2 separate regions of the Homo sapiens genome follow, and region 2 is linked to region 1. Evidence: fine-mapped expression QTL. A gene starts in region 1. The other region holds a variant in brackets. All regions are shown on one strand. Distances are from middle to middle. Region 1 holds the start of MMP24 (matrix metallopeptidase 24). Region 2 overlaps MMP24-AS1-EDEM2 (MMP24-AS1-EDEM2 readthrough).

What was found. PIP is the estimated chance that this variant, and not a neighbour inherited with it, causes the effect. A credible set is the group of variants that fine-mapping cannot tell apart.
Region 2: its variant is the best candidate, but not a certain one, in a credible set for the expression of MMP24 in cerebellum (GTEx, PIP 0.75).

The regions. Positions count from the first base shown.
Region 1 is chr20:35,218,953-35,235,403 of GRCh38, reverse strand. It overlaps MMP24 (matrix metallopeptidase 24), which reads right to left and starts at 8,714. Exons shown (of 9, transcript NM_006690.4): 1 at 8,420-8,714. The coding sequence starts at 8,665. The region is part of intron 3 of MMP24-AS1-EDEM2 (MMP24-AS1-EDEM2 readthrough); the gene reads left to right.
Region 2 is chr20:35,251,321-35,265,037 of GRCh38, reverse strand. All of the region lies in intron 2 of MMP24-AS1-EDEM2 (MMP24-AS1-EDEM2 readthrough), which reads left to right. MMP24 (matrix metallopeptidase 24) reads right to left here. Exons shown (of 9, transcript NM_006690.4): 3 at 13,017-13,133; 4 at 10,284-10,588; 5 at 1,086-1,247. Among named protein-coding and RNA genes, the nearest start is that of MMP24-AS1-EDEM2, 20 kb to the left of the region's middle. RefSeq lists enhancers at 1,477-2,238, 2,239-3,002, 3,003-3,764. The variant A/C (reference allele first, on the strand shown) is at 4,385.

The DNA of each region.
Region 1 (16,451 bases):
AAGACAGGGTTTCACTCTATGGCCCAGGCTGCAGTGCAGTGGTACAATCTCTGCTCTCTGTAGCCTCAACTTCTTGGGCTCAAGCAATCCTCCTGCCTCAGTCTCCCAAGTAGCTGTGACTGTAGGTGTATGCCACCATACACAGCTAATCTTTGTATTTTTTGTAGAGATAGGGTTTCGCCATGTTGCCCAGGCTGGTCTCAAACTCCTGGGCTCAAGTGATCCTCCCAGCTTGGCCTCCCAAAGTGCTAGGGTTACAGATGTGAGCCCCACAGCCAGACCAAGTCTCAGTTTCTTAACTGCAACAGGGAGATGGTTGAACTAAATAACCTGTAAGTCATGTTAAAAAGTTCCATTATTTTAGCCTAAGTGGATTGACTGTGAAGCCGATCTTCTGGTTCCTCATTGCCAGTCTTAAAGTCCAGATTCTTTAGCATGACACAACAACCCTTACAATGTGATGCCAATGCACCTTTCCAGCCCTGTTTTCTTTTGTAGAGATGGGGTTCTGCTCTGTCGCTCAGGCTGGAGTGCAGTGGCACAATCATAGCTCACTATGACCTCAAACTCTTGGTCTCAAGCAATCCTCCAGCCTCAGCCTCCTGAGAAGCTGGGATTACAGGCATGAGCCACCATGCCTGGTTCTGCCAGCCTCATGTTCTGTCCTGTACCTTCTACCCTTTATTGCTCACCTCAAGTACCCCAACCTCTAGCTATACTGACCTAATTGTGTTGCCTGAGCATATCCTGCAGAGTCCTGCCTCTGTGCCTTTATTTCATTCCCTCTCCCTAGAACTCCTTTCCCATATGTACTCTGGCCTCCCCATGGTGCGCTACTTCAAAATGCAACTTGAATGCCACTTCATCAGGGAGGGCTATCTGTCTGGGGTTAAATGGACTTTCTATGTGCTCCCAATGGCATTATATGTATCCTCATTTATAGCATATTTTGTATTACATTATAAATAATGGTTTACATGCCTGTAGTCCCCTTTGAACTCATCCTCATGGAAGTTACAGCCGGTGGGAGAGATAGACATGGAAATACTAAACATTTCATTACAGTGGTGATAAGTGGAATGAAAGAGAAGAACCAGGAGCTACAAAAGTGTGTGGCAGGAGATATAGGCTGTGATATCAGGGATGGCCTCCCTGAGTACATGACATCTCAGCTGACATCTGTGAATGAACAGAAGAGGCTAGGTGAAGGCTGAGAATGAGACTCCAGGAAAGAGTACCTTACTGAATTCCTGAATGGGAAGGAGCCTGTATATTAGAAAAAGAGAGGGAAGGGCAGGGTGACTGGAGTCTAGTGACCAATGGGGAGAATGGGTGGTATAAAAGGAAGTCAGAGAGATGGGAAGGACTCAGTCATGCAGGGCCTCATCGGCTTCATTAAGCATGTTTTTGTTTTTGTTTTAGACAGGGTTTTGCGCTGTGGCCCAGGCTTGAGTGCAGTGGTGTGATCTCTGTCCACTGTAGCCTCAGCTTCCTGGGCTCAAGCAATCCTCCTGCCTCAGCCTCCCAAGTAGCTGTGACTACAGGCACATGCCACCACACCCAGCTACTCTTTGTATTTTTTTGTAGAGATGGGGTTTTGCCATGTTGCACAGGCTGGTCTCAAACTCCCGGACTCAAGTGATCCTTGTGGGTGCTGCGTCCAAGGGAGTTTATAATATTGTTCTTTCCATTTTCATATGCATTTGAAAGTTTTCCATAATAAAACTAAAAGGAAGAAGTGATAGTAGTACAGTAATAATAGTATAATCTTTGTCCTAAGAGTCATTTTAAGCCAGGTGAGGGTGGGAGTAAGGTGATCAGATTTTGGTTTGTTTTTAATTTTTTTTATTATTCAATATTTCAGTCATTCAGAAAGGCATAAAATAACAATATATATTGGAAAATCACCAGCCAGCTTTGTCAAACATTAGTTTTTGCCATATAGGCTTCAGATATAACTGACTCCTGAGTGGACTGATTGATTGATTCATTGATTGATTTTTGATACAGAGTCTTGCTTTGGCTGGAGTACAGTAGTTCAATCCTGGCTCACTGTAACCTCCGCCTCCCAGGTTCAAGTGATTCTTGTGCCTCAGCCACCCAAGTAGCTGGAACTACAGGCATGTACCACCATGCATAGCTAATTTTTTTGTATTTTTAATAGAGATAGGGTTTCACCATGTTGGCCAGGCTGGTCTCGAACTCCTGGCCTCAAATGATCTTTATACATACATATGTATAAAGAGAGAAAGGAGTAAAGAACAACTCCTGACTTTCTGGCCAAGTACTTTTGGTGCCCTTTATGCCTCGTAAGTGTTTGTGGCATAGAATTGAGTCTTTAAATTACTGCTAACAGGCAAGGCCAGGGCTCATGCCTGTAAGCCCTTTGGGAGGCCAAGGTGGGCGGGTCACTTGAGCCCTAAAATGAGTACTCGCCCCTAAGTTGTGCTAAGAAAGCTTAAAAGCATTCAGGGCAGGAGCCAGCAGCCAGAACAACTCAGGAACAAACTCCAGTCCCTCCACTTCCTCAACATGGCTCTGAGCAGGTCGCTCCTCTGCTCAGAAACCTTTAATGACTCCCCTCAGCCTTTGGACAAAAGCCAAATGCACAATCTGCTCTCAGTCTCCCTCTCCAGCCTCTTCTCCTTATACACTCTTACTGGAAACAGCAAGTAACTTGATGATTCAGGCACATCAAATTATCCACTGTTTCCTAAACATGCCATGCATTTTTGTGGAGCCATGGTTCATATTTTTTATTCTGCCTGGACTGCCCCACTCACCCTTCTCCATCATTCTCCTCCCTCAAAGGTTCATCTCAGATACCACCTTCTTCCTGAAGCATTCTCTGGCTTCCCGAACCTCAACTGGGGAACCTCATCTCCTCCCTCTTCGGTGCTTCCCGGCACCTTGTTATACCTCTAGCATGCATTCATTTATTCTTCACAAAAGGTAGCGACTTTTGTGTGCCAAGCACTATTCAAAGAAGTTGATGGGGATTAGATAACAAAATTAATTTTAAAATATTTATCACATGTCCAGAATGTATCATGCACTGTGCTAGGTACTGAGGAGATATTGGCTGTGGTTTGTTCTTCCTGTTTTGAGTTCAAACAATACCATACTATAGGGCTAGGCATTTCCTAAGATTAGTCTTTTGGGTACAATTATAATTTACTTTTATTAGTTCTAAAAATACCTCTTTCAAGGACCAGAGTAGGACATACTTGAAAGTAGAAAAGACTGGCTAAAAGGCTACAATAATAATCCAGAACAGGAAACTTGTATAGTGGGCAGAGTGCTGAGCCCAAGAACAGAAAACCTAGCTTCTGTTATTTGCTTTAATTTCTTTTTTTCTTCTGAGACGGAGATTCACTCTTTTGCCCAGGCTGGAGTGAAGTGGCACAGTCTTGGCTCACTACAACCTCTGCCCCCGGGGTTCAAGCAATTCTCCTGCCTCAGCAGCTGGGATTACAGGCATGCACCACCAGGCTCAGCTAATTTTTGTATTTTTAGTAGAGATGGGGTTTCACCATGTTGGCCAGGCTAGTCTCAAACTCCTGACCTCAGGTGATCCACCTGCCTCGGCCTCCCAAAGTGCTGGGATTACAGGTGTGAGCCACCATGCCTGGCCTGCTTTAATGTTTATGAGCTATGTGTGGGTCCTTAGACAAGATGATAGGCAATTCACATCATCTTTGAGTCTCCTTTTACTCACCTATAAAATGAGGACAATGTCTTCCTTATCTACCTCATGGTATTGTTCCCAGGACCAAATAGGGCCACATACATGGCATATGGGAAGTGCAAAGCACCTTACAAATATAAACAGCTATTAAAGTAATATGAAACCCCACAGTAAAAATAAGAGAAAATGAATTAAAAATACAGTAGACTAGATCCAGCTTATGTAAAAGGGAAAACTTCCTAATAGTGAGTTTTTTTTTTCCAGACAAGAATGAAGATATACTGGAGGCCATGATCACAGTGAAAGAATATTTTGATTTGGGAATACGTTGGTGCTTCTTAGTAGGTCACTCTCTTACCCCTCCAATCATTCGGGGTCAATCTTCCTTGACTACAGTTTCAAACCAAAGACTGTTCTCCATCTCCTCAGCACAAACCACTCAAAACCAGTCTCAAGGGCAGGAATCCATAAGTCCTGGGTCTAGGAGTCACACTCTGTTACTTATTCATGTGGCCTGTGATAATTGACTTGTCTCTTTCATCCTGTTCTGATCTTCCTCAGAATCAAGTTGGAAACTAGGAAGGCCAGAAAAGTATTTGAGGAGCATTCTACTCAGCAAATAAGAGAAGTGGTGCTTTTAATAAATCAAATGAAGGAAGCCAGTTAGAGAATCAGTGGGACCTCTTGATGTGTAAGATAAAAAAGAAAGACTAAAGAAAGCATAGGATCCTGTTTGTTGAGCTTCAAGGGGTCGGGGGTTGTGGGGTGTGGAGAAAAATAAAGCAAAGGAGAAGATAGACTGAATAAAAAAATTTTTTGGCTTGGTAATGAAAGATCATAGATACGAAATGAAAAATCAATGATGATGAAAAATGCTTTCAATTTAGAAATCAGGAGAACTAGGAAAAGTTCTACAGTAGTTCCGAATCATCTACTATCACGTTCTGTGCCCTTGGGCAACTCAATTAAAGAAGTATCTAGTAAGTGCTGTAGTAGGTACTGGGTGATCTCTAAGGTCACGGTTATCTCTCAATTTCTTTCTATTGATGCCACTACCATTAGAAGACTACCTAAAGAGTTCTGAAGGAACTCAAGGGTGAGCTTGTGGAACCACTGCCAAAAGGAATAGGCTTGATTTCTACCGAAGAAAGTACAAGTTGGCAATGAGTCCCATCTCTAAGAAGGGTTTTAGAAGGGGGCTTGGAGCCCCATGCCCATGAGTGCCTATTTCAGATCCATGTAACTTTTTGAGATAAAGGATAAAGAGTAGAATCATTGATTGCTCATTGAATACTTAATGATGAGCATTGAGAATCAGGGATTTTGTTCAATGTAAAAAAATAAAACATTTTGGTCAAGAAAGCCTTGCCTAAGAACCAACCTTCCTCTCCCCAAAAATAATGTTTAACTATTAAAAAATAAATAGGGCTGGGCACGGTGGCTCACACCTATAATCCCAGCACTTTGGGAGGCTGAGGAAGGTGGATCACTTGAGGTCACGAGTTTGAGACCAGCCTGGCCAATACGGCGAAAACCCTTCTCTACTAAAAATACAAAAATTAACCGGGCGTGGTGGTGCATGCCTGTAATCCCAGTTACTCAGGAGGCTGAGGCAGGAGAATCGCTTGAACCTGGGAGGCGGAGGTTGCAGTGAGCCGAGATCACCCCACTGCACTCCAGCCTGGGCAACAGAGTGAGACTCTGTCTCAAAAATAAATAAATAAAATAAATAAAAATAAGTAAATAAATAAATGACAAACTGGCTGGGGCTGCCTTAAAAATGTTTCCTGGAGAAGAGAGAAGAAAATGACAACTAGAGAAATCAGGGAAAGTTTATTGGAGAAGCAGGGCTTGAGCTGAAACTTTAAGGAAAGGTTTCAAATGAACGGGTAGGGGTGCAGAAGTAACTATGTGACAATGTCCAGAGAAATATGGGCAGCCTGTCTAAGGGTAAAGGAGAGATGAGCTTGTCGAGTAAGGATGCGTTATCAATAAGCAGTGGGAAATATGGCCTGCTAATGGAGGGGTAGGGTGGAGACAGACTCCAGAGGGCTTAAAAGACAGAAAGAGGAGTAAGCAATATTATCTGCCGGCTTAAAAGCAACAATATTTCTATAAGGTGTCAATCAAGTGATCCCCTAGTGTTCAGTGAAAGGATAATTAGGCACAAATTATTGAGAGAAGCAGTGGATATAATTTGTCTATCTTTCAGGAAGTTTTGGACAATGTATTAGACATTTAAAATGGAGTCATTGTCAAATTAAGGATGATGTTTTTGTCACTTAGAAAACAATAGATAGATATAAATGGTCACTTCCGTGAATGAAAGGGGATTAAGAGTGCAGGGGGCCCCAAGAGACCATGCTGGGACCTGTCTCACTTAAATTTTTTATAAGTGATCCAGAAGAAATATAGCAAAGTGAAAATTTCAAGACTTCAGATCATATTAAGCCCTTTCAGACAGGGAAATGCTATGCCAAAAGAGAAGGAAGGAGGAAGAGGTGGAGGAAGGGAGAGAGAGAGTGAGCGAATGCTTGAAGGAAGTTACTGAGTGCAATGCAAGATGGCAGACAAACGTCAAGGTGGAGAAATGTAAGGTAATGCACTCCGATAAAAATAATCCACATACAGGGTGTTGTGTTCCAGGCTATCAGTTTTGACCCAGGAAAAGGCTCCGGGAGCTATTATAGATTGTTCCCTAAAGGCAGTGGCCTAGTGTGTTGAGATCAGGAAAGCTGACAGAGGGAAGGGGGAAGCAGGATGGGACCAGGAGAGCAAAGAAGAAACCAACCTTCCTTTATGCAAAACCGTAGGGTCCTGTATCTGGAGACAATGGTCAAGTTGACATCTATTGAAAATTAGGGCCAAAAGGTATCTAGAAAAGGACAACTAAAATGACCCAGAGAATGAGTGTGGCTATTCTAGGGGTCTCGTGTCATAGGGGGAAACTTAAGTTTAAAAAGACAAAGGCTAAGAGGTGGAATAATCAAAGCCTATAAAACTGATACAGGTAAGGACTAGCTTCCTCTTAATGCTTGAAATATTGTAGGAATAAAAAAGTTTCAGAGTTGAGATTGTCTAGCTCTATCTCTTTATGTTAGACATGGTGAAATTCAAGCCTAGAGAGGGCAAGGAAATGGCTCAAGGTCACACAAACCAATGGGGGCCAAGGTCAGATCAGAGCCCAGGCCTCCTTAATCCCAGGCCAGGGTCTTTCCACCTCATCCTGTGCACTCAGGCAGTCTAAAGCAATCTTTCTTCTAGGGTATAAACTTAGGAAATGCATTACTTTAACATGTGATAAAACACATGTGAAAACACAAAGAGGCTAAGCAAAGTTTCCACAACAAGTCAACCAGCAATTATAAAATCTTTGGAGGACAACTGCCAACTGGCACTAAAGGTTCTTTTACACACCATATCTTTTTTGTTGTTTTGTGGAACCTGTAACCCTTTGAGAGGCTGAAGAAATCTAGGGGTCCTCGCCTAGAAATACACACATTTGCACTTACAAATTTGTACGCAATTTCAGTGCACGTATGACCCCCTGAGCTCCATGCCCAATTAAGAATATCTCTTGAGGCAGATTCTTCTAAACAAACAGACTGCCTGCTTCAACAAATATACTCCATCTCTTAGGGTGGCGAGGCTATCACTCTGATTTTCCTCAGCAAAACACCATTGTCCCAACATCATTTATTAGAATATTGCAGTCCTCTAGGTTGGAAGATACTAGAGAAATTAGTCCAACTGCACCCCCCATGAGATATAGGATAAGGTCATGGGTAAATAAGGGGAGACTAGAGTCAGCCTGCCTAGGTTAGAATTCCAATTCCATCACTCACTAGCTGTGTGACCTTGGGCAAGTTACTTAAGCTCTTTGAGTCTGTATCCCCATCTGTAAAATGGGGATAATAATTGCAGCTATTTCATAGAGTAGTTATGAGGATTGAATTGGATAATTCGTATAAAACATAGCACCAGGCCTGGCACATAGTGAGTGTTCAGTAAATGCTAGCTGGCATTATTGTGATGATGATGTATGCATCCATGCAAGCATTATGCATGCCTCCATCCAATCCCCTCCGAGAGCTTTTACTTGCACATGCCAGTGATGAGCAGCTCGCCGCCTCCTAAGCTGGTTGAGCAGCTCCAATTGTTACAAACTTCTTCCTATATCGAGCCCAAATTTGTCTTCTTGCAACCCCCACTCCCGCTGGCCCTAGTTCTGCCCTGTGGGGCCAAGCTAGAACAAGTCTATCCTACCTCCACCTGACAGCCCTTCAGCTACGAAGACAGTGATCGAGTCCTTCCTCCGCCCTCCCCCTCCCCCTTCTCCAGCTTGAACATCCTCGGTTTCTTCTCCCAACCCACAACAGACTGGCTGCGCTTACTATTTACTCCGAGGCGTTGTACGGTTTCCCTCGCACATAGTCATGCAGGCCACACACCCCACTGCCAACACAACAAACCCGACCCTCGTGCTCGGCCCCCGCCCGCTGCCCCTGTCCGCGGTGCTGAAGCAGCTCCCGGCCTCGGCGGCCCTCGGCGAGGCCCTCCCCAGCCCCCGCCCTGGGCCGCGCCAGCCCGGACCCAAGGCGCGGACCCCCGGCGCGCCGCCTCCGCGACCTCGGCAGTAGGTGCGGCCCGGCCCAGGCCCGTCCCCGGTGCCGCCCCCCGCCCTGCCCGGATGCCCCGAGCCCGCGCCCCGGCCCCGCGCGCCAGCCCCACCTGCCCGGCGAAGGGCGCCTCCGCCTCGTCCGCCCGCGCCACCGCCACCGCCACCGCTGCCCGGTTCCCTGCCCCCGCCGCCGCCGCCGCCGCCCGCGCGGCGCCCGGGAGGCAGCAGAGCGCGGGCAGCAGCAGCAGCAGCAGCCGCCCAGGGACCCGCCAGCGGCTCCAGCGCGGGGCCTGGCCCGGCGGCGGCGGCGGCGGCGGCGGCCCCGGCGCGGCGCGGCCGCCCCGGCTCCTCGGCATCCCGGCGGCGGGGCCCGCGCCCGGCCCGCCTGCCTTCGCCGCCGCCGCCGCCGCCTCGGCCGCCAGCGCGCCCCCGCCTCCGCGCGCCCCGCCCCGGTGGGGGGCGGCCGGGGGCGCGGGGGCAGCACCCGGGCGGGACCTGCGAGGGCAGTGGCTCCCCGACCAGCCCTGGGGCAGGGGCCGCGGAGCGGCGCTGGGGAGGGGGTTGCAGAGGCTAAAAGAACAGTTCTAGAGGCAGGGTCCGAAGGGGTGGAACTGGAGGTCGGGGTCTGGGGGTAGCCCTGAGCAGGAGGGGGAAGAGGCTAAATCAGTAATCCTGGAGGTAGAACAACTGGATGGCCCTGGGGGAACATATCCGGGGTTGGGGGTCCGGAACCCTGGGGAGAGGGTCCTAGGGAGTGGCATTGGAGGAGAGGGGGCCTGAGAGGCAGCCTGGGGGAGGAGACTGAGGAGCGGCTCTGGGGTAAAGGCGGGGTTCGAGAGCAAGCTAAAGAAATAGCCCTGGGTCTGAGAGGGTGACTCCGGAGAGGGAGCTCTGAGTGGCTCTCCTGGGCCGGGGTGGTGGGGGAAAGGGGTAGAGAAGACCTGAGGAGCGTTTAAGAGGGGGCATTCCTGTGAGACATTAGGTGAAGTTGAGGTGAAGCTCAGTCCCTCACCCCTAGAGGGAAAGAGCTCATCCAGCTGGGAAGATCATCTTTCATCCAAAACAACCCATATTTATCAAGCGCTTTCTATTTGTAGGGCTCTGGGCTACTTGGGATGCTGAAAGGAAAAAAAAAAACACCCAAAAACAAAAACAAAAAAGAGAAGGCCGATTTCCTGGAGTGCAGAGGTTTACAGCTTGATGAGAAAACATAAACGCAAAGAAAAACAGAATGGCAAACACCACGTGTCAACAAGGATACAGGCGGCTGCTCCAGGGGTCGAGGGAGACCTGATGAGGGGCTGGGGAAGTTAGGAAAAAGTGTAATGGAGGAGGGTGGGACTCTAGCTAGGACCTGAAGGAAAGGCTGGATTTAAACCAGGGGAGGGGAGAGGAGAGGGCATTTCAGGGAGGAAGTTGAGGGTGTACAGGATGTGCCTGAGGCGGCAGATAAGTTTCTCTGGAGCACAGGGTTCCTATAGGAAAGTGTTGGGAAGTGAGGGAAGTTGTACAAGACAGTGAATGCTAGGATAATAAATTTGGGTTGTGTTCTGAAGGAAAATGGGGGAGGGTGGTCATTAAAGGTTGTGTGTGTGTGGTGTGTGTGTGTGTATGTGTGTGTTTAAGCAGGATGATGTGTGAAAATAGTATTTTATGATTACGTGGTAATTTGGAGATGAAAAAAGGGCACAGGCTTTAGCGTCAGACCTATGTTCATATCTTGGCTCTGTTCCATTTTTATAAAATGATGCTACTATTACTGTATAAGATTGCTTTCAGCATGAGGTGCTTGACACTTAATAGATATTCCATGTTAGTTCCCCTCCCAGTGGAGAGAATAATGACCAGAGGAGGCAGAGAGATTGGTTAGGAGACTAGTGTAATAGTCTAAGTATAAGGAAATAAGGATAACAATAATAATTAACATTTATTGAGTGCCTAATACATACTAGTTACTGGGCTAAGCACTTTCCTCCACGATATCTCATTTAATCTTCATAGATAAACCCTATGAAATAGATGCTATTATTACCCCTAATTTAGGATAAAGAAGTGGAAGACTCTGAATAAGTTTGCCAAACTTGCGTGATTCATAAGTGATAGAGCTGAATCGATTTGACTTCAGAACCCATTTTTTTCTAGGATGGGGGTGAGAAAAGAGACAGATTTAAGAGACAATGGGCATACAAGAAGAGGGAAAGGAGTTTGGAGTGATGGCAAATCGAGAAAGATGGATGGTAGCATCTTCACAGAAACGGAGTCCTCATGTGGAGGAACTGGCTTGAAGGAGGTGACAAGGAGCTCGGTTTTAGACTTGCTGAAACTGGGGTGACCACAAGATCTGTGAGATGGGTATGGGAATGAGTTCTCGAAGAAGGTGGAGAATGGATATTTTGGACACCTTCAAGTAAATACGGTAGTTGAAGCTGAAAGCAAAGAGTTGAAGAGAGCAAAAGGCCAAGAGTTCCATCCTGAGACATACATATTCAGAGCCTGAGAAAAGTCAAGCCAAAAGTGAATCTAAAGATTGTCCAAAAAGACTGAAGAATCAGGATTGTGGAGTATCACCGGAAAGAAGAAGAGAGGTTCAAAGAAAAGGAAGGAGTTGGCTGGGCGTGGTGACTCACACCTGTAATCCCAGCATTTTGGGAGGCCAAAGCAGGCGGATTACATGAGTCCAGGAGTTTGAGACCAGCCTGGCCAACATGGTGAAACCCTGTCTCTGCAAAAAATACAAAAATTAGCCAGGCATAGTGGTGCACACCTGTAATCCCAGCTACTGAGGAGGCTGAGGCCTGAGAATCGCTTGAACCTGGGAGGCAGAGGTTGCAGAGAGCTGAGATTGCGCCACCGCACTCCAGCCCAGTAACAGAGTGAGACTCTGTCTAAAAAAAAAGAGAGAGAGAGAAGGAGTTGACAGTCTCAGGGAAATCAAAGAGACTGAAGACTGTATTAACACCATTGAGGTGAACAGCTCACAGTCCCGGTAGGGAGATGATAGAGACAAATCATTGTGGTTACATGATGAGTTATGACACGAATGAGAACAAAGTGTTGTGGAAACACTGAGGAAAGAGCAATGAACTGCCAAAGTTGGAAGGTTTGGGAGGGGATATATTCCAGAAAGAAGAAATAGTATATTCAAAGAATGAAGGGGAACAGACTGGACTGAGCTCTGTCTTATTCTTCTCCTTTCCTCTAATACCAAATGCTTGTGGAACTGCCGATGATGATATAGCACTGTGGTGGTCCACCTTGACCAGCTCCCAAGGATGGCGGATGTGAATGGCAGTAGGTATTGATGATAAGGAAAGAAGAGGCTGATAGAAGTCAATGGTTGCTTATAAAATGGATCCCTAAGATAGTCCTTAGTAAGAGGACGGTCCAGAGACTGCTGTGAAATCAGTTCAAGAGGAGGTTTAGAAGGTTTCAGAGCAACACCCCAAGATAGAATCACGGGAACTCTGACTTTGCAGCCTCCAGTCACCATGATGAGCATGGGATAAAATGGAAACAGCACTTGACTTAACGTCAGATACCTGATTCAAGCACTGGCTCTGTCACTGACTTTTGGTATGCCTTTCAGCAAGTCACTTCATTTATTTGGGCCTTGGTTGCCTCATAAAATGAAATGAATGACCTCTGTCTTCTCCACTTCACTTGAAAGACCACATGAGTGGTTGGAATTCACTTAATGAACTATATGGTAAACTGACCAGCTGCTAGGAAAAGCTTTTTATTATTATTATTATTATTATTATTATACTTTAAGTTTTAGGGTACATGTGCACAATGTGCAGGTTTGTTACATATGTATACATGTGCCATGTTGGTGTACTGCACCCATTAACTCGTCATTCAGCATTAGGTGTATCTCCTAATGCTATCTCTCCCCCCTCCCCCCACCCCACAACAGTCCCCGGAGTGTGACGTTCCCACTCCTGTGTCCATGTGTTCTGTTGTTCAATTCCCACCTATGAGTGAGAACATGCAGTGTTCGGTTTTTTGTCCTTGCGATAGTTTGCTGAGAATGATGATTTCCAGTTTCATCTATGTCCCTACAAAGGACATGAACTCATCATTTTTTTATGGCTGCATAGTATTCCATGGTGTATATGTGCCACATTTTCTTAATCCAGTCTATCATTGTTGGACATTTGGGTTGGTTCCAAGTCTTTGCTATTGTGAATAGTGCCACAATAAACATACATGTGCACGTATCTTTATAGCAGCATGATTTATAGTCCTTTGGGTATATAGCCAGTAATGGGATGGCTGGGTCAAATGGTATTTCTAGTTCTAGATCCCTGAGGAATCGCCACACTGACTTCCACAATGGTTGAACTAGTTTACAGTCCCACCAACAGTGTAAAGGTGTTCCTATTTCTCCACATCCTCTCCAGCACCTGTTGTTTCCTGACTTTTTAATGATTGCCATTCTAACTGGTGTGAGATGGTATCTCATTGTGGTTTTGATTTGCATTTCTCTGATGGCCAATGATGATGAGCATTTTTTCATGTGTTTTTTGGCTGCATAAATGTCTTCTTTTGAGAAGTGTCTGTTCATATCCTTCGCCCACTTTTTAATGGGGTTGTTTGTTTTTTTCTTTCTTTTTTTATTATTATTATTATACTTTAAGTTTTAGGGTACATGTGCACAATGTGCAGGTTAGTTACATATGTATACATGTGCCATGCTGGTGTGCTGTACCCATTAACTCGTCATTTAGCATTAGGTATATCTCCTAATGCTATCCCTCACCCCTCCCCCCACCCCACAACAGTCCCCAGAGTGTGATGTTGGAAAACCTTTGACACTGATAATCTTAACAAGAAATATTATATTGGGGCTGGCGCAGTGGCTCAAACCTGTAATCCCAGCACTTTGAGAGGCTGAGGCAGGTGGATCACCTGAGGTCTGGAGTTCGAGACCAGCCTGGCCAACATGGTGAAACCCCATCTCTACAAAACTTAGCCGGGCGTGGTGGTGCACGCCTGTAATCCCAGCTACTTGGGGGCTGAGGCAGGAGAATTGCTTGAACCTGGGAGGCAGATGTTGCAGTGAACCAAGATTGTGCCACTGCACCCTGGCATGGGCGACAAGAGACTCTGTTTCAAAAAAGAAAAAAAAAAAAAGAAAAGAAAAGAATTATGATATTGGCTGGGCACAGTTGTTCACACCTGTAATCCTACCACTTTGGGAGGCCAAGGAGGATGGATCACTTGAGCCCGGGAGTTCAAGACCAGCCTGGGCAACATGGTGAAACTCTGTCTTTACAAAAAAAAAAAAAAAAAAAAAAATTTAGCTGGGAGTTGTGGCACATGGCTGTAGTCCCAGCTACTTGGGAGGCTGAGGAGAGAGGATCACTTGAGGCCAGGAGGCAGAGATTACAGTTAGCTGTGATTATGCCACTGCACTCCAGTCCGGGCAACAGAGCTAGACCCTGTCTCAAGAAAAGAAAAAAAAGAAATGTTATATCAGTGCCTGAGCTCACTGTAGATAAACTGGGTCCCCTCTTCCCTTCACCTCCTTTCATATTTATTTATATATTTTGAGATGGAGTTTTGCTCTTTTGCCCAGGCTGGAGTGAAGTGGCATGATCTCGGCTCACTGCAACCTCCGTCTCCTGGGTTCAAGCGGTTCTCCTGCCTCAGCCTCCTGAGCAGCTGGAATTATAGGCACCCACCAACATGCCCGGCTAATTTTTGTATTTTTAGTAGAGATGGGGTTTCGCCATGTTGGCCAGGCTGGTCTCAAACTCCTGACGTCAGGTGATCCACCTGCCTTGGCCTCCCAAAGTGCTAGAACTACAGGCATGAGCCACTGCACCTGGCCTCATATTTCTTTATTCAACTAATATTTATTAAATATCTTTTTGGTGCTAGATACTGTGAGTGGGGCTAGGGATGTAAAGAAGATCAAGTTATAGTTGCCTTCTTTAGGAAGATAGTCGGTTGGGAAGATAGACAATTATCCAGATAACAAGATAACATAATATGTGCTATAATAGAGAAATGGGAGTAGGGAGGAGGGAACAACTGACTGTCTAGAGATGGCAGGTGAGACAGACCTTGAGTGACCAGCAGGAGTTTGCTATGTAGAATGGGAGGGAAAACTATGTACAAAGACAACAGATATATATGGAGACAACAACCATTTACATAATAATACGAAGACATTGTTTTCTTTTTAAACTCTCATTTTCTCATGAGAGTACTGGGTAGTTTTCCAGGGCTTCATGGCACATTATACAGATTGAATGAGAAGTAAATAGGATAATACAATTATCTTCTATTAAACCAGACATAAAACAGATTTTCAAAAAAGCAAAACAGTAGCATTCCTCTCACTATTTTTTTTGTTTCGTTTTGGAACAAAACAGCTAAATTTTTATTATTTTTTTAAAAATAAAAATGTTATGTTAACATGTTTATTATTGTTATTTTAAATGAATTAGTATGTAAATATTTAACAATTTCTCAGTTTTGATCCCTAGTGTGATACTTATCAATAGACAGAATCCACATAAACAAAAGTTATTTGGAGTCCTGAATTTTCAAAAGTTATTTGGAGTCCTGAAATTTTTTTTTTTTTTTTTTTGAGACAGAGTCTCGCACTATTTCCCGTGCTGGAGTGCAGTGGCGAAATCTTGGCTCACTGCAACCTCTGCCTCCCAGGTTCAAGCGATTCTCCTGCCTCAGCCTCCCAAGTAGCCGGGATTACGTAATAGGTGCCAGCCACCACACTTGGCTAATTTTTTGTATTTTTAGTAGAGATGGGGTTTCACTATGTTGGCCAGGCTGGTCTTGAACTCCTGACCTCATGATCTGCCTGCCTCGGCCTCCCAGAGTGCTGAGATTACAGGCATGAGCTACCAAGCCCAGCCTGAATGTTTTTGTGTTTTTTTTTTTTTTGAGACAGGGTCTCACCCTGTCGCCCAGGCTACAGTGCAGTGGCACAATCATAGCTCACTGCAACCTCAAACTCCTGAGCTCAGGTGATCCTCCCACCTGAGCCTTTCAAGTACCAGAGACTACAGGAATGAACCACTGTGTCTGGCCCTCAATACTTTGAGTGTAGAGAGGGTCCTGAGACCAAAAGGCATGAGTACTCTGTTCTGGGCAGAATGACCCAAAACAGAGGAGCAAAATGATAACGTTTGATTTCACTCAAGAAACAAGTTCAACAAATACTTATGTGAAACACCTATTTTGTGTTGAACATTATTCTCGGTACTGGGATGATAGAGCTTTGAACAAATCTAATAACACTTCCTGCTTTCATGGAACTTAAATTATAATGGAGCAGGCCGGGCATGGTGGCTCACACCTGTAATCCCAGCACTTTGGGAGGCCAAGGTGGGCAGATCACCTGAAGTTGGGAGTTCAAGACCAGCCTGGCTAACATGGTGAAACCCCATCTCTACTAAAAAACACAAAAATTAGCTGGGCATGGTGGTGCACATCTGTCATCCCAGGTACTCAGGAGGCTGAGGCACGAGAATCACTTGAACCCGGGAAGTGGAGGTTGCAGTGAGCTGAGATCGCACCACTACATTCCAGCCTGGGTGACAGAGTGAGACTCTGTCTCAAAAGAAAAAACAAAACAAAACAAAACAAAAACAAACAAACAAAAAAACTGGGGTGATAGACAACGAACAAAATGATTTAAATATATATATGTAGTTAAATAGCATTTTTTTTCTGTTGAGAAAAGCAGGATTTAGGACTTGAAATCTGAATGGTGTGTGTGTGTGTGTGAGAGAGAGAGAGAGAGAGAAAAAAAAAAAATTTTTGGATGGAGTGGCCAGGGAAGGCCTCAGTAAAAAAGTGAGTTTTTTGTAAAGATCTGGAGGAACAAGGGAGTGAACCATGTAGATATCTGAAAGAAATGAATCCAGGCAGACGGAACAGCAAATGCAAAAGTTTTGAGGCAAGAACGTGCCTGGTAGGTTTGAGGAAAAGGGTAAGAATCACTGTGGTTAGAGTGGAAGAGAGTGAGAGTATCAGGAGATGAAGGTTATGGAGGGAAGGGTGGTCTACATGAGATAAAAAACTGATGGGGCTGGGCATGGTGGCTCATGCCTGTAATCCCAGCACTTTGGGAGACTGAGGTAGGACAGTCTCTTGATCCTCTCACCT
Region 2 (13,717 bases), 31 kb before region 1:
AGCCCCCACCTGGTCTCTGCTGCTTTACTTGTGGAGGTCCTGCCTGTCCTCCAGGGCTCTGGCTGGGTCATCTCCTCCAGAGGGAGCCCTCCTTCTGTGCTCCGTAGCCTGTGGGCTGTGGGTGCCTGTGCTGTCTTGACAAGCATTTGCTCAAGTAAACTGGTCTCCCTAGCTCACCTGACTTGACCAGAACAAGAACCTCACATACCAGTGTGAACAGAACTGGGAGAGAGGTGTGTAGGAGGCCTTTCATATCTTACCTAGATAGCAGTAGCTTCTCATCTTTCACCTTTTCTTTCTTTTTTTTTTTTTTTTTTTTTTTTTTTTTTTGAGACGGAGTCTCGCCCTGTTGCCCAGGCTGGAGTGCAGTGGTGCGATCTCAGCTCACTGCAACCTCTGCCTCCTGGGTTCAAGTGATTCTCCTGCCTCAGCCTCCCAAGTAGCTGAGATTTCACTTGCCCACCACCACACCTGGCTAATTTTTTTGTTTGTTTGTTTTAATATTTTTGGTAGAGATGGGGTTTCACCATGTTGGCCAGACTGGTCTCAAACTCCTGACCTCAAGTGACCTGCCTGCCTCAGCCTCCCAAAGTGCTGGGATTTCAGGCAAGAGCCACCACGCCTGGCCCTCGTTTTTTCTTTTTAAAGAACAAAGCTCTGGTTATAGTCCCCATCACGCTGTATCACCGTTACTCCTGCAGATGTGTGAACCTGCCTGGCTAGAGGTGGAATCTATGGGAGCACTCAGTCACCATCTGGTGTGGGAGGGAGGGAGAGAAGCATGAAGGGACGGGGAAGAGTGTGGAAGGGGAGGGGTAAAGGAGAGGGAATGGGTGGCCCTCACCTCACTTTTGTCCCTCTCAGTTACAGCTCAGACCCTCCCCTAGGTTTCCCAGGTGTGCCAGGGGAAGCCTTGCCCTCTGGCCAGGCAAAGCCATTGGAAGTCTGTAAAGGTCACACACAGAGAAACAGCAGCAGTGCTGATGATAGCAACGTCCCCCTCCCTCGTCCCCTGCCCCATGACAGGTAGGCAGTCACAGCCCAGCCCCGAGGAAGGAGCAGTCCCCCCTCTCCCTGCCACACACCATAGATCTTCTGGATGCCCTGGAGATCGTCCTGGGGCAGCTTGAAGTTGTGCGTCTCCATGTACTGGTAGAAGGGCGCCATGATGGCGCTGGGGTCGCTGGAGTGCTCCAGTCCCAGCGCGTGGCCCAGCTCATGCACAGCCACCAGGAAGAGGTCGTTCCCTGTGGAGAGGAGTGTGGGGAGGTGCCCAGGGCACCTGCTTAGATATGAGTCGGTCAGCCAACCCATTACCTCAGCAAACACCGAGCACGGGCCCTGTGCCAGGCCCCGTGCTGGACACCAGGGACATACAGAGAAATCAGGCACAACCCCTGCCTCCCAAGCCTCTCTGCAGAGCAGGGACAAGGAGAGAGAGAGTGACAAGTGAGGCAGAGGGCTCTGGGTGCTTTAAGAATGTCTGGGAGGGTCGAGCAGGGATTCTGAGGAGAGAGGGGTCATTTAAACCTGGAGGAAGATGTTCAGGGAAAGCTTCACAAAGGTGAAGTTGAAGCTCAGTCTTGAAGGATCAGAAGTTAGTCAGGAGAACGGATTCAGGGGGCAGGAGAGGAAGGGTGGGGGTGGCATTCCTGGCGGATGGAATGCAATAAACACAGTCCAGAGACAGGCAGTTTCATTCCACCTGGCTCTGGAACAAAGCAGGAGGGGAGGGCCGGAGAGAGATGAGGTCAGCCAGGCTGGAAAGCAGGGCGCTTAATGCCATACAAAGGAATTTGGATCAGCTTCTTGGCTAGTGGGGGGTTTAAGTAGGAGTGGGGGTGGTGATACAATTAAATCACTCTGGCTGCAGTTGAGGGAGGATTAGAGGGAACAAGACCTGGGGCAGGGGGATCTGTTTGGATGCTGGGGTCCAGGCGAGAGATTGTGGGGAAAAGCAAGAGAGATCAGATTGTTACTGTGTCTGTGCAGAAAGAAGTAGACATAGGAGACTCCATTTTGTTATGTACTAAGAAAAATTCTTCTGCCTTGAGATTCTGTTAATCTATAACCTTACCCCCAACCCTGTGCTCTCTGAAACATGTGCTGTGTCAACTCAGAGTTAAATGGATTAAGGGCGGTGCAAGATGTGCTTTGTTAAACAGATGCTTGAAGGCAGCATGCTCCTTAAGAGTCATCACCACTCCCTAATCTCAAGTACCCAGGGACACAAAAACTGCGGAAGGCCGCAGGGACCTCTGCCTAGGAAAGCCAGGTATTGTCCAAGGTTTCTCCCCATGTGATAGTCTGAAATATGGCCTCGTGGGAAGGGAAAGACCTGACTGTCCCCCAGCCCGACACCCGTAAAGGGTCTGTGCTGAGGAGGATTAGTAAAAGAGGAAGGAATGCCTCTTGCAGTTGAGACAAGAGGAAGGCATCTGTCTCCTGCCCGTCCCTGGGCAATGGAATGTCTCGGTATAAAACCCGGTTGTATGCTCCATCTACTGAGATAGGGAAAAACCGCCTTAGGGCTGGAGGTGGGACCTGCGGGCAGCAATACGGTTTTGTAAAGCATTGAGATGTTTATGTGTATGCATATCTAAAAGCACAGCACTTAATCCTTTACATTCTCTATGATGCAAAGACCTTTGTTCACGTGTTTGTCTGCTGACCCTCTCCCCACAATTGTCTTGTGACCCTGACACATCCCCCTCTTCGAGAAACACCCACAAATGATGAATAAATACTAAGGGAACTCAGAGGCTGGCGGGATCCTCCATATGGTGAGCGCTGGTTCCCTGGGTCCCCTTATTTCTTTCTCTATACTTTGTCTCTGTGTCTTTTTCTTTCCTAAGTCTCTCATTCCACCTTACGAGAAACACCCACAGGTGTGGAGGGGCAACCCACCCCTACAAGAGATGAAAAGGCCCTGAGCTGGCTGGGCGTGGTGGCTCACGCCTGTAATCCCAGCACTTTGGGAGGCTGATCGGGGTGGATCACTTGAGGTCAGGAGTTCGAGACCAGCTTGGCCAACATGGTGAAACCCCATCTCTACTAAAAATACCAAAAATTAGCCAGATATGGTGGCCTGCGCCTATAGTACCAGCTACTCCGGAGGTAGAGGCAGGAGAATCGCTTGATCCTGGGAGGTGGAGGTTGCAGTGAGCCAAGATCGCGCCACTGCACTCCAGCTTGGGCAACAGAGTGAGACTCCATCTCAAAAAAAAAAAAAAAAAAAAAAAGGATGCCCTGAGGTGGAGGGAGGGAGTGGGGACAAAGAGAGCAAGTCCTGGCAAACTGGCAGTCAGCTTCAGGAGACCCCGGGCAGGGCAGGTGGGGCCCGGGCGTGGGCAGCTCTCTGCAGGACCTTGGTTGTGGAAGCAGGGAACTGTTGGCTAAGATTGAGGCAGGGATTCAAGTGTAGGTGAAAACACACTCCAGGTCCTGGAAGTGGGACACAGGATCCTGAGGGTGGAACTGAGGCAGCTCCATGGCACGGTGGTTACGAGCTTGGGCTCCTGAGTAGGACAGATTACCTTCATTCCCCCTGCCAGTTTGTGAATATGGCCAGCAGGGCTACCCCTAAGCCTCAATGTCCTCACTTGTAAACTGGGGGCATCAGACCTACCTCACCGGGTTGTGTGAGGTTGAATAAGATACACGTGAAGTGCGTGGTATGACACAGAATGGCAGCTGTTGTAATCCTATGTAAGATAGAAGCTTGGTTACTGGAGGAAGCCCATTGACCAGAAAGGAAGCACGAGGCCAGTGGAGCGCCAGCAACCAGATCCTCTGAAAGCCAACTCCCCTGGGCTTCTGTATTGTGCCTAGGACAGGACAAGGAGGCCTGAACTTAGGGGGATGAAGTAACCGCAGCTTTGGGGAGAAAATGCAGGGGGTAGGGAGTCAGGTAGGCTGTGGATCACCAGTCCTGACTCCTGTCTGCCCAGTGTCAGACCCTTGCTTGCCTTGACCTCTGGCATTTGTAGCCCCTTGAGCCCTGCCTCTTATCTTCTGGCCCTAAGGCATGGCTCGGCCCATTCCTGCCACCTGTAAGTCCAGGGAGGCTGCCAGGAACCTAGGAGGTGGTCTAGAGTCCTACTGCCCACTCTGGCCCCAGCGTCACTGGCCTAGGGACACATGGGGGTGGGGATTGTTTGGCCTTCCTGGCTTAGGTCTCTGGAAGAGAGAAGAACCCCATGGGGCAGACCCAGGCCACGGGCAGTACATGCCTCCCACACTACTGACACCGCCAGTGTCTTCTGTGAAGCCACCTTTGAGCAACGGAAAGGAAGGGGGATGGGCAAGATCAGTGCAAGGTTGGCCAAAAGCCTGGGGCTGGCCTTCTGCTGGCATGAGAGGGCCAGGCCGCCCCCAGCTCCTT[A/C]CTCAGGTCCTGGCCCCTCTGGCAGCAGGGAAGGGTGAGCTCATCGCTGAGCTCCATCCCAAACAAACTGGTAGAGCCAGCGGAAGGCAGCTCTGCTTCCTGGGGTCCAGTCCTGGCTGTGCTCCTGGGCTATTCTATGACCTGGGACAAGCTGTTCAGGGCCTCTGTCTCCTGAGCAGGCTCTTCCCCAGGGGCTGTCCACAGGGAGCTCAGCTGGGAACCAGGGAACACGGCTCTGAGCACTGTGGGAGACTCAAAACCTTTGTCCGCAGCCTTGTCTCTTGCTCTTTTAACCCCTGTTCTGGGTCTGCAGAGAACAGGAGTGACCCCTTAAAGGAAAGAGGCCTGTGGTTTGGGTCCAGGAACCAAAAGGAAGGGAAGAGCGAGGGAGCCAGTATCCTGCTGCACAGAAACCCAAGAGAGCCCTGAGGGGGAGACAGAGGGAGCAGGGCAGGGGCAGGAGGACTCCCTGAGCTTGTGAGGTGAAGGCAGAGGTATGAGGAGGAGAGGCCTGCTATGAGGACCCCATGCTCCATGGGCAGGAGGCTGCTAGGGTCTTCACTCTTCAAGAGGGTGAGCGGCAGGGAAGCAGAGTGGTCAGGAATGCAGTCTCTGGGAGCCAGACTGCCTGGTTTTGAATCCCAGCTCTGCCATGTCCTAGCAGTGTGACATTTTAAATTCTTCCTCTGGAAGATAGAAGGAACAATGGCACCTTCGTCATAGGGATGTGGGTGAAGATTCATGGGGCAGGGTGTGTAATGCGCTGATACCAGCTCCTGGTACAGAAGTATTACCCTTCATTAGCAGGGTCCTGTTGAGCTGTGTGTGAGCACCAGCACCCCTGATAGGGTGTGTTCCTGTAAGTCCCTGGGCCTCCGAGCAAGTCCCCAGCAGTCTACTCGGCTACTCAAGTGGACCTTGTCTCTGCCTCATTTCTTTCTTTTAGGATCTCCATATTTGGTCGTTCCCATCTCATTAACTCCCCCAGCCCCACGAAAGGTGATAGCATTTCCCTTTGCCTCTGTTCTTCTGCCAGTGCTGCCCCTTCCCCTGGAATAACCTGATTCCTTCAAAGTTCAGCTCCATGCCTGTCTTCCAGGAAGCCTTCCATGACTTCCCAGCTGGCAGTGAGTGCTCCTTCTGCTGTGCCCTCCCAGCAGTTTCCCTGAACTGCCTTTATGGCACTGACCGCTTCCTCCCCACGTGATTGCCACTAGTGCACATGCTCGCTGCCCCAGGACTGTGGGTTCCTTGAGGACAAGCTTTGTGTTGAAGAACCAGGTGACAGCCCCCGGAATGGAACAGCGCCAAAAGCACCGTATTTTACCAAGGGAAATACTCGGACCACCTGCAGCAGAACCACCTGTGGTGACTTAAAAATGCGGAGTCCTGGGGTCACACCTGGCTCTGCCACTTTCCAAAGGGGTGAATTTCCTATTTTTTTAAAAAGTATTTTCTTTCTTTTTTATTTTTGAGACAGGATCTCACTCTGTCACCCAGGTTGGAGTGTAGTGGTGCAATCTCGGCTCACTTGAACCTCCGCCTCCCGGGTTCAAGCCATTCTCCTGCCTCAGCCTCCCGAGTAGCTGGGATTACAGGCATGTGCCACCACACCCGGCTAATTTTTGTATTTTTAGTAGAGACGGGGTTTTGCCATGTTGGCCAGGCTGGTCTCGAACTCCTGACCTCAGGTGATCTGCCCCCCCTCGGCCTCCCAAAGTGCTGGGATTACTCCAGTGCTCCCATCGCACCTGGCCCGGGGAGCCTTTTAAACACATGGAGGAGGTGGGGAAGATATTCTGATTCAGGAGGTTTGGTTTGGGACGTAGGCAATCTTTTTTGTTGTTTTTTTTTTTTAAGTTCTCCAGGTGAATTGTATAATGGTTGGGTCAGGCTGACACAACCTGAAGCAAATGCTCGACCTCAACATCACTAAAAGTGGGACAGTCTGCATCATATGTATTTGCTAATATGGTGAATAGGAAGTACCAGCACCACCTAGGAAGTATTCTTGCCAAAAAAATTGAACTTGAATCTAGTCAGCCTGTAAATCTAATGAACAACATTCAGGAATTATGGGCAAGAGAGACGTATTAAAAGTAAACTTGATTCTAGTCACGCCAAATGATTATACTCGGGACACCTGACCCAGTTTCTTCAACAAATATATGGAGGGAAACGTGTGTGTAGGACGGGGGTGTTTTAAATAAAAAGGGCTTTAAGAGACATGTCAGCCATGTGTGTGTGGATCTTGTTTGGATCCTGATTCAAGCAAACAACTGTAAAAGACATTTCCAAGGTACTTTGGGAAAGTGAACTCGAACTGGGTATTAGATTTTAAAAAATTATTGTTAATTTTGTTGGGCTTGATAATGATTGTGTGCTTATGTTAAAAATTAGCCTTTATCTGTTAGAGGTATATACTAAAGTATTTAAAGGTGAAATGTTAGAATGCCTGAGATTTTCTTTAAAATACATCAGCCAAAAAAAGGTAGATAAATAGGAATGCCACAACGTTGATAATTGCTGAGGCAGGTGGTGGGTATCTGGGAGATCATAGAAGCATTCTTCCTACTTTTGTGAGTTTGAAATTTTCCATAATGAGAGTTTAGAAAAAAGAAGTAAGCTAATAAGTTCAAAAAGTTCCCAGGAAACTCCACCCCTTTGCTGAGTCTATGTGGAAATTAAACGAGATAATATATGGATGCTCAATAAATTTTGGTTCCTTGCCTCTCACCCAAAACCTGCCTTCACTGCATTCCAGTTCAGGAGTCGATTGCTGTGGTCCTGAGCTGCATCTGGACAGTTCCTGCTTGGTTTTCCAGAGCAGAGCAAAGTCCTGATTCTTATCCAAAGAAAACATTAGCAATCTTGGAATTTCTATCAGAATTGGCAGTCTTTCATGAAGGTTAGGGTTGGACAGATGGGAGAGGTGCTGGGATGGTGCCCATCCACAGGTCCCCGGTCCTTCCCACACATACCACCGGCTCTTGGGATTTGGGGGCTGGGTCCAACAAGTTCTGCAAAAGCAAGGAGCAGGTGTGGGAAGTGCACACCCCCAGTGCTGGGCAGAAGGGGAGGGCAGAGGAGTGGGAGTGTCTTCCCGTTGCCTCTGGACAACTCTTTGGACATTCATTTGCCTCTATCAGGAATATAACTAAAACCCTATCAGCTAACAGTGCCTGGCACATAACAGGGCCTCAAAAATATTAGTTCTCTTCTCCTCACATCTTATCTGTTAGCACAGACAGCCATTCGTTGACACCGATCCAAAAATAAGAATGAGATAAAGAACAGGTACTCAGCCAGGAATACATGCAGGACATACGGGAGAGATACCAGGGCAAAGGAAACGGAGTTCAATAGGAAAGAGGACAAAAATCTGAAGAAAGAAGAGGACAAAGAACAATTTAACAGGTTCATGACTTTGCCTAGGCTGAGCCTTGGCCAAACCACCTCCTGGTCCAGCCTTTGACAGATAACCCCAGAGCTGCCAATCCCTAATCCATGCGATGATATAAAGTGTTCTCAAGGAGGTGATCCCCAACTATAGACACCAAACATGGCCCCAACTATAGACACCAAACCAGCTTTGAGAGTCTGCTCTCAGCCTGGAGCAGCCGCAGGGCAGGAAAAAAGGATGCTCGGTGTTTCCCAAGCTTGTTTGAGCTCAAGAGTCAGGATTTCTGTGGGAAGGGCCTGGGAATCCCCGTTTATAACAAGAACCCCCATTGGTTCTTATGATCAGGCCAGGTAGGAAAACTCTAGGTATTAAGATAGCGTTTCTCATGGTGATGGAACACCTGCATCAGAAGGCCCCAGGAATGTATTAGACCACTTGCAGATTCCCAGGCCCTACCCCGGACCCAGAGAATCAGAATGACAAGAGGTTAGGGTCCTGGAATCTGCAGTCTTTTTTTTTTTTTTTTTTTTTTTTTTGAGACGGAATCTCTGTTGCCCAGGCTGGAGTGCAGTGGCATGATCTCGGCTCACTGTAACCTCCGCCTCCCGGGTTCAAGGGATTCTCCTGCCTCAGCCTCCAGAGTAGCTAGGATTACAGGCACCTGCCAACATGCCTGGCTAATTTTTGTGTTTTTCGTAGAGATGGGTTTCACCATGTTGGCCAGGCTGGTCTTGAACTCCCGACCTCAGGTGATCCACCTGCCTCGGCCTCCCAAAGTGCTGGGATTACAGGTGTGATCCACCGTGCCTGGCCTGGAATCTGAATTCTTAAAAATGGTTCCCAGGTGATTCTGCTGTGCCCTACAGTTTGAGAACCATGGAAGCTTAGCATGATGGCTGACAGCATGGGCTCCAGGGCCATAATGCCCAGATTCAAAGCCTTATTTCACCATTCACCAACTGTGGGACCTTAGGTAGGTGACTTAATGTTTCTCTATATCTCAGTTTACCTATCTGTAAAATGAAGATAGCAATATTTACCTATAATAATAATTTAACATTATATATTGCTTAATACATAAATTTAATTATGCATTATAATGTATTAATAGATATAATAGTTTCCACACATAATGGGTGGCAAGCACTTGGCACGGGCCTCAGAACACCAGCATACCCACTAATTATCATCTCTTATAATCCAAAAGCCACACTCCTCTGTCCCTCTTTCCTCCAAACTCCTACATATTTCTTTGTGCCTCTGCTACAGCCTTGGGTAGAGTCTGTCTATGACAGGGTTACTTACGTGCACACCTAACTCCCCTGCTAGACTGACTCTGGACTGCCAGGGGACAGAGATCATGCCATTTTTTTCAAACATTCAGCTCCCCCTGGTCTTTGCAAGACTTTGTATCATGTTCATTAGAGTTGGAAGGGCCCTTAGCGATCACCTAATCCAGCCCCTCACTTTGCAGACGAGGAGACCGAGGGTATCACATAGCCAGTAGTTGAACCAGGGCTTGATACCTGCATTGTCACCTTTCAGCTATGCCAGTTGAGCCCCAACTCTTCATCTTAAAAATGGGTGTAATAATGTACACTTGCCTACATACTAAGCATGTGCCTTGTGAGTAAATATTGATGATGAATTTTTTGGCAACCTGCAGGGTATCATTACTATTGCTGCACGGTATTGACTCTGCCTCCATAAATATTCATTGAACCATAGTGGTGCAGGGTAAATTATCCAAGGATGCCAGAATAATTTCAGGGCCTGCTACTCACCTGTGAGGGTGACAAAGGAGAGAGCCAGTCGTGTCATTCATAAGATGGCTTTTGGAGCCCTCATCATTCAGGCCAGAGCCTACTACTTTCAGACCCCTCTTTCAGCTTTAATGCCTTTTAACTTTTTTTTTTTTTGAGATGGAGTTTCACTCTTGTCGCCTGGGCTGGAGTACAATGGTGCGATCTCGGCTCACTGCAACCTCTGCCTTCTGGGTTCAAGCGATTCTCATGCCTCAGCCTCCTGAGTAGCTGGGATTACAGGCACCCGCCACCACGCCCAGATAATTTTTGTATTTTTAGTGGAGACAGGGTTTCACCATGTTGGCCAGGCTGGTCTTGAACTCCTGACCTCAGGTGATCCACCTGCCTTGGCCTCCCAAAGTACTGGGATTACAGGCGTGAGCCATTGTGCCTGGCCCCTTTTAAACTTTTTCTTCAGCCTCTGGTCCATTACTTTATCTTCTTACTGGCCTAACCTTACTTTTCTCCTGCCAACCGGACTATCTTCTAAGTGATCTGACTCATCTCCATGGCCCTGGCCCTGGTGGATTGAACGTTGAATATTATCAGAAATCACAGTTCCCACCCTCTTACGGTCTTAGTTCTTGGACAAGAGGCTCTAGAAAGCAGGAAACTCATCTAGGATGTCCTCCAAGTTCTTTCCCAACAACTGAGCAGCCCAAGACTGACCCCTGTCCCCTCATGGCCTTACCGTCATGGTTGGCATTTCCTAGCGTCCATGGCTCATCGGAGTCAAAGTGGGTGTCTCCTCCAATCCCTGGGCCAGGGAAGTAGGCATGGGCCAGGAATCCCCCTTCTCCATCAAATGGGGAGCTGTCGCCATGGAAACCAGAAGCAAAAAAGATCATGATGTCTGCCTCCTTCCGGTCACTTTTGATCTCATGGTATGGCACCTCTTCAAAGGTCAGTGGGGTCACCTTCTGCCACACATCGAAAGCCTGGCGAATAGCTTTCCGCGTGTCTAGCTCACCCACTTTTGGGGTATAGTTGTGAATGCTGGTGAGAGAGGGGAGGATCATTAGGCAAGATCAGAGAGTCAGAGACTAGCAGAGCTAAAATAGATACCTGAGACAATGTGGCTCAGTGATCTGATTTTGAACCCTAGAATTCTGCTTAGCTGCCTCAGGGATTGAAGAAGAGGCTGAGTAACAGAGCTCTGGATCCCCACCCTGCCTCAGTCAGATGGCTTTGCTTTACTCAGTGTTTTCCATTTGATCTCCAGCAAAGCTGTGTCGAATAAAGGATTCCACTCTAGTTTGTTGAGAAAAGTAAATTGGGGCTGGGCGCAGCGGTTCACGCCTGTAATCCCAGCACTTTGGGAGGCCGAGGCTGGCGGACCACATGAGGTCAGGAGTTCGAGACCAGCCTGACCAACATGGTGAAACCCTGTCTCTACTAAAAGTACAAAAATTAGCCAGGCGTGGTGGTGTGAGTCTGTAATCCCAGCTACTCGGGAGGCTGAAGCAGGATAATTGCTTGAACCCGGAGGCAGAGGTTGCAGTGAGCCAAGATTGCACCACTGCACTCCAGCCTGGGTAACAAGAGTGAGACTCTGTCTCAAAAAAAAAAAAAAAAAACCCAAAGGAAATTGGTAGATAGCATTTTCTGAATTTTAAGTTTTTTTCCCTAATACGAAATATGTTCATTTATAAAAGTTATAAAAATATTCAAATAATAGAGAGGAGTTTAAGTGAAAAGTCTCTTTAAAAAATCTTTGGTACCAATCTTTGGCTTGTCTGCCTAGAAGCTGGCCGGTATCTGATTTAATCCATTATAGGTTTAGCTGTTTAGCGTCGCTGTGTTCATATTGCATTGGTTCTTCACAAAACAACGTTACTACCTGTGGGTTCCCTGCCCTGTGACCCTCTGGGGCATGGATTATTCTACCTACTCCACACGTAAGGAAACTGAAGCCCAGAGAAGTCTAGTGATAGAAGTTACTCAGAGTTGGGTTAGAACCCAGTGCTTCTTTCTCTTGATCCACTCTACCCCTTCAAGAGACCCAAGAGTCTATTCAGTTTCTAACCTAGATTCTTAAGTTTCCTTCTCTTGTCAGATTTCTGGAAAAAAAAAATCCCGTTCTGAAGGGACAGCTTATCAGCAGAAGAGCCCTTAGTTCAACCCTAACTTTCCTTCTCTTGTCAGATTTCTGAAAAAAAAAAAAAAAAAAAAAAAGTCCCGTTCTGTAGGGAGTGCTTGTCAGCAGGGGAGCCCTTAGTTCAACTCTTGAGGATCTCTGTCTTAGATCTTGCCTCTGCACCAAAGGGATCCACCTGAGATGACAGCAGAGCCTTGAGAAGTGCCAGCCAGCACCCACCCGAGCCTGCCCATGCCTGGCCCTTGCCCCAGCCCCACCTGAGCCTGCCCATGCCTGGCCCTTGCCCCAGCCCCACCTGAGCCTGCCCATGCCTGGCCCTTGCCCCAGCCCCACCTGAGCCTGCCCATGCCTGGCCCTTGCCCCAGCCCCACCTGAGCCTGCCCATGCCTGGCCCTTGCCCCAGCCCCACCTGAGCCTGCCCATGCCGGGCCCTTGCCCCAGCCCCACCTGAGCCTGCCCATGCCTGGCCCTTGCCCCAGCCCCACCTGAGCCTGCCCATGCCTGGCCCTTGCCCCAGCCCCACCTGAGCCTGTCCAGTGCCTGCCCCTTGCCCCACCCCCACCTGAGCCTGCTCAATGCCTGGCCCTTGCCCCAGCCTCACTCCGGTGCTTCAGTCTGCTGTGATGGGCTCCATCATCTAGTTCTTGGGCCACTGATCTGACTTGGAGATGGATCCTGCTCTGCCCTTGGTTCCTCCAGACAGTCAAAGATGACACTATTATGATTCAGGTCCCAGTTCTTTATACTCCTTAAGAAACAACTGGAACTCTGCGTTGGGAATCTCAGGTGAAGTCCATCAGGTGGATTTTGGGGTGGGAGGATCCAGATCAGAGGGAATGGGGTTTGGCAGGCAGTGATAAGGAGACTGAATTAAGCCATGGTTTTGTTTGTTTTGTTTTGTGGTTTTTGTTTCATTTGTTTTGTTTTGGAGACAGAGTCTCACTCTGTCACGCAGGCTGGAGTGCAGTGGCATGATATAGCTCACTGCAAGCCACGATTCTTTTTCACAGCTGAAAGTTACCAAACCATTCATACCCCACTTCCTGTAACCTAAAAACTATAGGCATCTAAACAGAAGACAACTAAGAGCCCCCAGAGGACCAAATAAACCTGAGGTTGGAGTCACAGCATCCTGTGGAAGCCACAAGGAGGACAAGGTTATGGGCTCTCAGCACCTAGTGCCAATGCCCACATGCCTGGCTCTTGGCCTATGTTGTAAGCCTGATCCCCAGGCCCCCCTACATTGTGAGCCTTTGAAACTCAGGCCAGGAAAAACAGAGTGAGGGTGGAGCCAAAGGCAGGGAGGAAGAGGGAGAGTCGAAGCACCTGTAGGTGATGTGTTTTTGCCTCCACTTCTGTCCAGTCAGGGCATAGCGCTTGTTTCTCCGCCTACGGCTTAAGTGGGGGTGATCAGGGACACCACATCGGGGTTTCTTCATCCACCTGGGCAGAGAGAGGACACACACACACGCATATGCACTGTGGTCACTGAACACTTTAGGAAGGGACTGCCTATTCCCCAGCTCCAGTCTGGAAAGCAATGTGCATCCTCAAGCTACACTCTGGGACCCTGGCTTGGATGGACCCCAACAAGAACATGATTGATTGATTCATTAATTCATGCACTCACAATCATAGATGAGGAAATAGCTGTATAAAGACTGAGAATCAGAATATATGGGCTTGATAAGCTCCAGCTCCACCACTAGTCATAGGACCCCCAGGCAAGTGGCTGAACCAATATGAACCTCAGTTTCCTCCTCTGCAACATGAGAACTCTAGTTCTTGGTCTTAGGTGGAGGTGCGTCTTCAAGGAGGAAGTACATGTGAAAATGCTCTGTAAATGCAATGAGATTACAGGATGCCCTGGTTAAAAGCCTCCAGCGACTTCCCCAAACACTGAGAATAAAATTCAAACTCTTCAGCTGGGCACGGTGGCTCACGCCTGTAATCCCAGCACTTTGGGAGGCTGAGGCGGGTGGATTATCTGAGGTCAGGAGTTCGAGACCAGCCTGGCCAACACGGTG